2 linked regions of the Homo sapiens genome follow. The protein of the gene in region 1 interacts with the protein of each later gene in a pairwise test. Each region holds a gene or a part of one and is shown on either strand. Other genes may lie near its edges. The genes, in order: TMEM41A and FXYD6-FXYD2.

Region 1 (3,790 bases):
TGAGCTCCTATCGACTTGGAGCGAATGAATTTCTCTTTTGTGGTTAGGTCTCCAAATGAACCTCCTTACCTGGCTCCCCTCTGGTCTCCTGTACTGTCAGTCCCCAGCTCCCAGTGTTGTTTTCTGATGCCGGCTCCCTCTCTGTATTGAACGGCAATGGGAACAAGAATGACTATCAAAGCAAACAAATGCATGGAATTAAACAAAAAGTGTACTTCACTGTTTTCTAGTCCTGTCTTTTTCTAAATGTACTGTTTGTGCCCTGAGAGCTGCCTTAATAATCTCAGCATTTGTCAGAACTTGAGGGAAAGGAAGACTTTCCATGACTGGGTTTCCTGCAGCCACAAAAAGCAGGTAATGGAGAAAGCTAGTTTCTGCGATTCTTGTATTTGACACAGCCACGAAAGGAAGGGGCAATCATCATTTTATTTGGTGACAGCCTCTTCTTGAGTATTCTGTAAAAGCTAGACTGGCACTCTGCTTCTTCCCTATGCTTTCCTGCTGCCCATCCGGTAGCTACTCCTGTTACTACTGACCCCACTATACAGGGAGCAGAGAGAGAAAATGAAGATGAAAATCTGGCTTCTGAGAAATTATTTTGGTAAGAAGCATTGAGAGTGGAAAGCTTAAAACACCATTTTGGACTGTCCAATTTTCAGCCAATCCTAATTCCCACTGGCAAAGGTAGTTGAAAGTTAGCAACATGTTCAAACAAGCACCACACAGAACACTTACATCCATTTATTTGGGAAATTGCTTCACCTGTAAACTCACAACTGATAAGGCACATTATTGCAAAACTGTCGGGGTGGAGGGAGGGAGGCAACTCTAAGGATCCTGAAAAGGGGCAAAGGGCACACACTTGCGATGATGTGGAAAACATGTTTCTCCTTCCCTCCCCCTACTCCAGAACACCAAAGGCCACAGTCTTCAAAGTCTGCTGCCTCCTTCCCCCACTCTCGTTATCAAGGCTTCTTTTAAAGAAACACGTTTTAAACAATGAAATCCTCGGTGTGAAAGGATCATACCATAACCAAAAACCATCACCTGGGGATGCACTCTTCCTATGGAACGTGAGTAATTCCCAAGAATTCATGTAGAACAAGAGGCATAGATTAAAGTCTTGGCAAGACTCTTGGCCAAACCAAATCATCAACCCAGCAGATGATGCCCAAAAGCAGCAGTCTGGTAAGTCCTGATGAGTTACTCCTGTGGGGTGCAGGATCACAGGGCTGGTCAGTTTAGGTGCCAAGGTCCTTCTGTCTTTGGAAGCATTAATCCAGGTCTGTAACAATTCTGTACTGCAGCTACAGGAAGTAATGACAGCTATAGGCCATTAAGATACAACACAACAAAGTTATCAGAAGCCAAGGTTTCCTCTTTGAATTAAAAGATAAATTAAAAGATACAATTGTTTAGTTACTCTAAGCAAATACAACAATGAAAAACATTCAGAGGGTATACTGCCTGATGGCCCCATATACTGAACCCATTCTCCTAGCATGACACAGAACGGATTCCTGCAGAAAGGACAGATAAAATGTTTGCCTGGTCATGATTCAGGTGAGTCAAGGGCCCTGCCCCATCCAGATGGGTAAGAATTTCTCCAGAACATATCCATGACATACAGCGTTTGCTCCATTCATATTTAATAGTCTGTTTGCAATCAGCTTAACTGTCAGGACATGCGATCATAAGGAGGTCTGACATACATGGTAATGTCAGTGTGTCTGAACACAAGAGCGTGACAGAAATCATCATGTATGTGAGCAACACGTGGAAGTCCTAGGCAGTTCGTCAACTTGTTTCACTTGGCTTATGAAGAGGTAGGTCATCAGCAAAGAAGTACAAAAAAATGCTCTTCAAGAGACTAACAGAAGATGAAGAGCGGTGTCAGTGATGTGAGTTCCCGTGTCATCATTGGTACTAAACATCCACAAAGATGCAACAGGAGGACATCTGTCCCAGCAGCCTGTCACTCTGCAAAAGCAGTACTCTGGACAAGGACAATCAGCATCTTCTCCCAAGGCAGCTCAGGGGCTGGCATGAGGCAAATACAACAGGCTATCCCGAACTCCTTATTAGACCACAAAATACAAACAGCATTTTCTTTTTTTCTCTTTTTTTTTTTTTTTTTGTCAAGACAGTGTCTCACTCTATCACCCAGGCTGGAGTGCAGTGGTGTGATCTTGGCTTACTGCAACCTCTGCCACCTTGGTTCAAGCAATTCTCCTGCCTCAGCCTCCCGAGTAGCTGGGATTACAGGTGCCTGCCACCACGCCTGGCTAATTTTTGTATTTTTATTAGAGACAGGATTTCACCATCTTGGCCAGGCTGGTCTTGAACTCCTGACCTTGTGAATCACCGGCCTCGGCCTCCCAAAGTGCTGGGATTACAGGCGTGAGCCACCGCGCCCGGCCACAAACAGCATTTTCTAGGAGGCATCTGTTGCAGTGTCTGCTACACCAGGGCTGGTTTGAAAACCTGATGTAATACACCTTCAAGAGCAGAGTGTCCTTTCTGAAAAGACACTGCACATTGATGCACAGTGTCCACATCACCTATAGAAGGCAATCAAAAACAATGAGGGGCTTTAGAGGACCACATCCATTACACAAATAAGCAACTGAGTCCAGGGATGTGGCAAACAGAAAATCCAGATCATGTGTCTTTTCTACTGTGTATATGATTAGCAGTACTTGTTTCATTCAATTGCAGATGTTTCTGACTAAATTTTTTAATGAGGGTTCCAGGAATTAATGCCACCATGGCAATGGCCAACAGCTTAAAGACAGTGTCCCAGGAGAAAAGAGCATCCAGAGAGGTTAGGGTTGACAGGATGGACCCTGTCTGCACACAGATGAAATTATATGGGATCAAACCTGGAAGAAGAAAAGGACAAAGCACCTGTTACAAGCAGCAGCAAAATTAAGAAAATAATAATTCAGAATGTCACCAGGAACAGTGACTACGGTTTTTTTTTGCTTGACTCTTGACCCTTATACATATTAACTCTTTCCCTTCTTTCCTTCTTTTCTATTATTTTCCCTCCTTTCCTCACTTCCCATATATGCCTGTCTTGTTCAACAAAAGAACTTGAGATATTTACACAAATAATACATGCTACTATAAGACAATTTTAAAATAGGGCCAGGAATGGTGGCTTATGCTTGTAATCCCAGCACTTTGGGAGGCCGAGGTGGATCACCTGAGGTCAGGAGTTCGAGATCAGCCTGGCCAACATGGTGAAACCCCGTCTCTACTAAAAACACAAAAATTAGCCGGGTGTGGTGGCATGTGCCTGTAATCCTAGCTACTCAGGAGGCTGAGGCAGGAGAATCACTGGAACCTGGGAGGCAGAGGTGGCAGTGAGCCAAGATCTTACCACTGCACTTCAGCCCAGGCGATAGAGCTAGACTCTGTCTCAAAAATAAATAAATAAATAAATAAAATTTTAAATAGGAAAAGCAAAATGCGTGCAGAAGAATACAAGACATCAGGGAGTACAGTTAGTAAAAAAATGCATAAGGTTCACCTGTTTGCCAAAAGTGGGCCCCAAATTTGGTTCTGAGTACCCAACAGCCAAAGTAAAGAGAGAAGTGCCATTGTTGACAAACAGTTTTTTAAAAGAAGTACTATTCACATTCTGTACTGTCTCAAAGATGTCATCAAATCCACTGGATTCCAAAAGTCTGGCTGGCTGAACAGGCTGGCTGCAGAACAATCAGCTGGTGACATTGTTAAAAAACCACATCCTTGGGCTCCACCCCAGAAATTCTGGGTACTTGGT
Region 2 (2,873 bases), on another chromosome or scaffold:
CTAGGCCCCCCGCTGCTAACCATGGTCCCAAACTCATTTGTTAAATAGGGATGATCCCACCTGCCTCACAAGATTAGGGCTAGCATCCAAAGACATGGCAGTCAGGACAGCGCTCTGAGAACGGTCCAGTGCAGACTCGGAGTGTTCTGGGGGAGACAAAGAGAGTTATGTATCCTCAAGCCCCGAGGGGCACACAGCAGGAGCTTAATAACTGCACATTGACTTGTTTTGGTCCAACCCAAAGAAAAATACACAGAAAACACAACCCATGGAAAGAAGATACAGCAAGCACACCTGTGGGCTCTGGACTTCTAATGCACGTGTGCCACTGCCACCCCACCCCAAGGCTCGGGCCACAGTCCTGCGGGTCTCCCCATTTTCCCGTGTTGCCCATGGCAGCTCTCTCTACGTGTGCCACTGCCAGCCCACCCCAAGGCTCGGGCCACAGTCCTGCAGGTCTCCCCATTTTCACATGTTGCCCGTGGCAGCTCCCGGAGGGCAGTGCCGGGTGGCAGCTGATCACATAGGCACAGGAGGCAGGTGGCCTAAGCAAGGGGCTCCACTTTGGAGTTGCTGCCATCCTTCTCCAGGTGTTCATCGGGCAGCTGTGCTGGGGGCACCATGATGGCCCAGTCTCTGCTGCTACTCTCGATATGCCAACAGACCACCGTGGATCTGCTCCAGTAAATATTTGCTGACTGACTGACTGACTTAGGTTCTTAAATGCCTATGGTCCAGCCTTATATAAAGAGAGAGAAGGCTGGGCGTGGTGGCTCATGCCTGTAATGCCGGCATATTAGGAGGCCAAGGCAGGAGGATCTCTTGAGACCAGGAGTTTAAGACCAGCCTGGTCAATACAGTGAGACCCGATCTATACAAAAAAAAATTTTTTTAATTAGCTGGGCATGGTGACATGTACCTATAGTCCCAGCTACTTGGGAGGCTGAGGCAGGAGGATTACTTGAGCCCAGGAGTTTGAGGCTGCAGTGAGCTACGATCCCACCACTGCACTCCAGCCTGGGTGACAGAGTAAGACCCCGTCTCAAAAAATAAAATAAAATAAAATATAAAATAAAATAGAGACAGTCAAACGTGGCCTCCAAGCCTGACCCTGCGATGATACTGGCAGGAGGGAGGTAGGAGAGACTGGAAGAATTTTGAGTCTTCCAGGGTCTCCTTGGAAAATTAGTCCATGGAAACAAATCTCCTTTTCTCTTTTCAAGGCAGAAGATTCCGCTGTGGGGGCAATAAGAAGCGCAGGTGAGCGCTGCCTGGGGTGACCGATGAGGGGGTTGGGGCTGGAGAAGGAGGGGCGGGCTGAGGATTTTGTCTCTGACACAGTGGAGGATCCCCAGCCTCAGAGATCCCTAGACCCACCCCTCCCCCTGCCCTCTCACCTGTTGCTTTTCCTTCCCCCACCAGGCAAATCAATGAAGATGAGCCGTAACAGCAGGTATGCTAGGAGGGCCTGGGGAAGGTGCGGGGAGGGCAGGGCAGGCTTGGGAGCAACAGGGAAGAATTCTGGCTCCTGGACTCGGTAAATAAGAATTTTAGGGTCGTCCACACATCAGCCAGGTGGTCTGTCACCCATCGTGTGTTTAAAATGATGGCCAAGGGCCTGGCGTGGAGTGTGTGCCGCAGGAGATCACAGAGGAGCCCTGGAGAAAAGTGAGATGGACAAGGGGGAAGTAAAACCCCAACCTCTGCTGCCTCCCACCCAACCCCATCCTGCCTTTGTCTTCTCAGCCTCGGCGGTGCCACCCACTGCACTGGGGCCAGCTGGGAAGCCAAGCATGGCCCTGCCTCTGGCGCCTCCCCTTCTTCCCTGGGCTTTAGACCTTTGTCCCCGTCACTGCCAGCGCTTGGGCTGAAGGAAGCTCCAGACTCAATGTGACCCCCAGGTGGCATCGCCAACTCCTGCCTCGTGCCACCTCATGCTTATAATAAAGCCGGCGTCAGAGACCGCTGCTTCCCTCACCTGCCTGCCTGTCTCCCTCCTCTGTCACCACCAGCCTCTCCAAGCTCAAGTACAAATACAGCCGGGTCTCATTTGTTTTTTCAATTAATTGCTCAGGCACCTGTCTGCCTGTAAAAGCAAGAAGTTCAGTGTTGTCATCTGTAGGCCACTCCTCACACCCCTTGAACTGGCAGAAGCCCTGGGGACAGAGGCCTCAGCCTGGCTTTTATACACCTGGGAAGTCTGAAAGGCCCAGAGGTCAAAACCACAGCCCATTGGATACCCATGAGGCCTCTGCCCCAGGCACCACTGTTGGGTTCCTGGAAGCGACCCTGCTTAGCAGTTGCTGTGGAGAGGCCCCAGGCTACCAAGATGGGCCTCTGTGTGGTCACATTCCTGTGCTCTGCCGTTTTCCATATGTACCCCCCTGGGCCAAGGTGGGTGGGTCCGGGGAGCCTGGTGCTGGGCCTCTGCACATGTCCTGAAGGAGCCAGCCCTCTTCCCAGCCCCCTCCTGGTACTAAGCTCGGGCCACCTCTTTCCACTCTTGGGGCCACCTATTTGGAGGGTTGGTTAATTCCAGGGCCTGGGGCCAGGGAACAGATGGTGAGAGTGAGACCACTGTCACACTTGCTCCAGCCCCCGTCCATGCAGGCAGGGACCCACCCAGGGCAGCCTCAGCCTGAGATGCTTCCAGGTCGCTCCACCTAGTGCGGACTCCTAATGTGCCCGACTCCTAATGCCCATGCCCCCTTTGCTGTGAGTCCAAGGCCATGGCCATGCAGGGAGGCCTCTGGGACCTTCTGCACTCAGGAAGGAGCCCAACTTTCCTCTCCCTCCCTTCACTCAGAGGCCTCGAAGGCTGGAGGGATTGTGGGATTCTGGCACCACCTAGCGTCTGGCTTCCTCATCTGGGC

What was found.
Region 2: the proteins of TMEM41A (region 1) and FXYD6-FXYD2 interact in a two-hybrid assay, tested with the Homo sapiens proteins (one large-scale study listed by BioGRID).

What each region holds. Positions count from the first base shown.
Region 1 is NC_000003.12:185,488,876-185,492,665, forward strand, and holds the end of TMEM41A (transmembrane protein 41A precursor), read right to left. Parts: intron 2,883-3,790; coding exon 2,662-2,882; 3' UTR 726-2,661; downstream 1-725.
Region 2 is NC_000011.10:117,819,246-117,822,118, reverse strand, and holds the end of FXYD6-FXYD2 (FXYD6-FXYD2 read-through protein isoform 1 precursor), read left to right. Parts: intron 1-1,223; coding exon 1,224-1,260; intron 1,261-1,422; coding exon 1,423-1,447; 3' UTR 1,448-1,453; intron 1,454-1,746; 3' UTR 1,747-2,062; downstream 2,063-2,873. Other genes in the region: FXYD2 (sodium/potassium-transporting ATPase subunit gamma), read left to right, coding at 1,224-1,260, 1,423-1,447.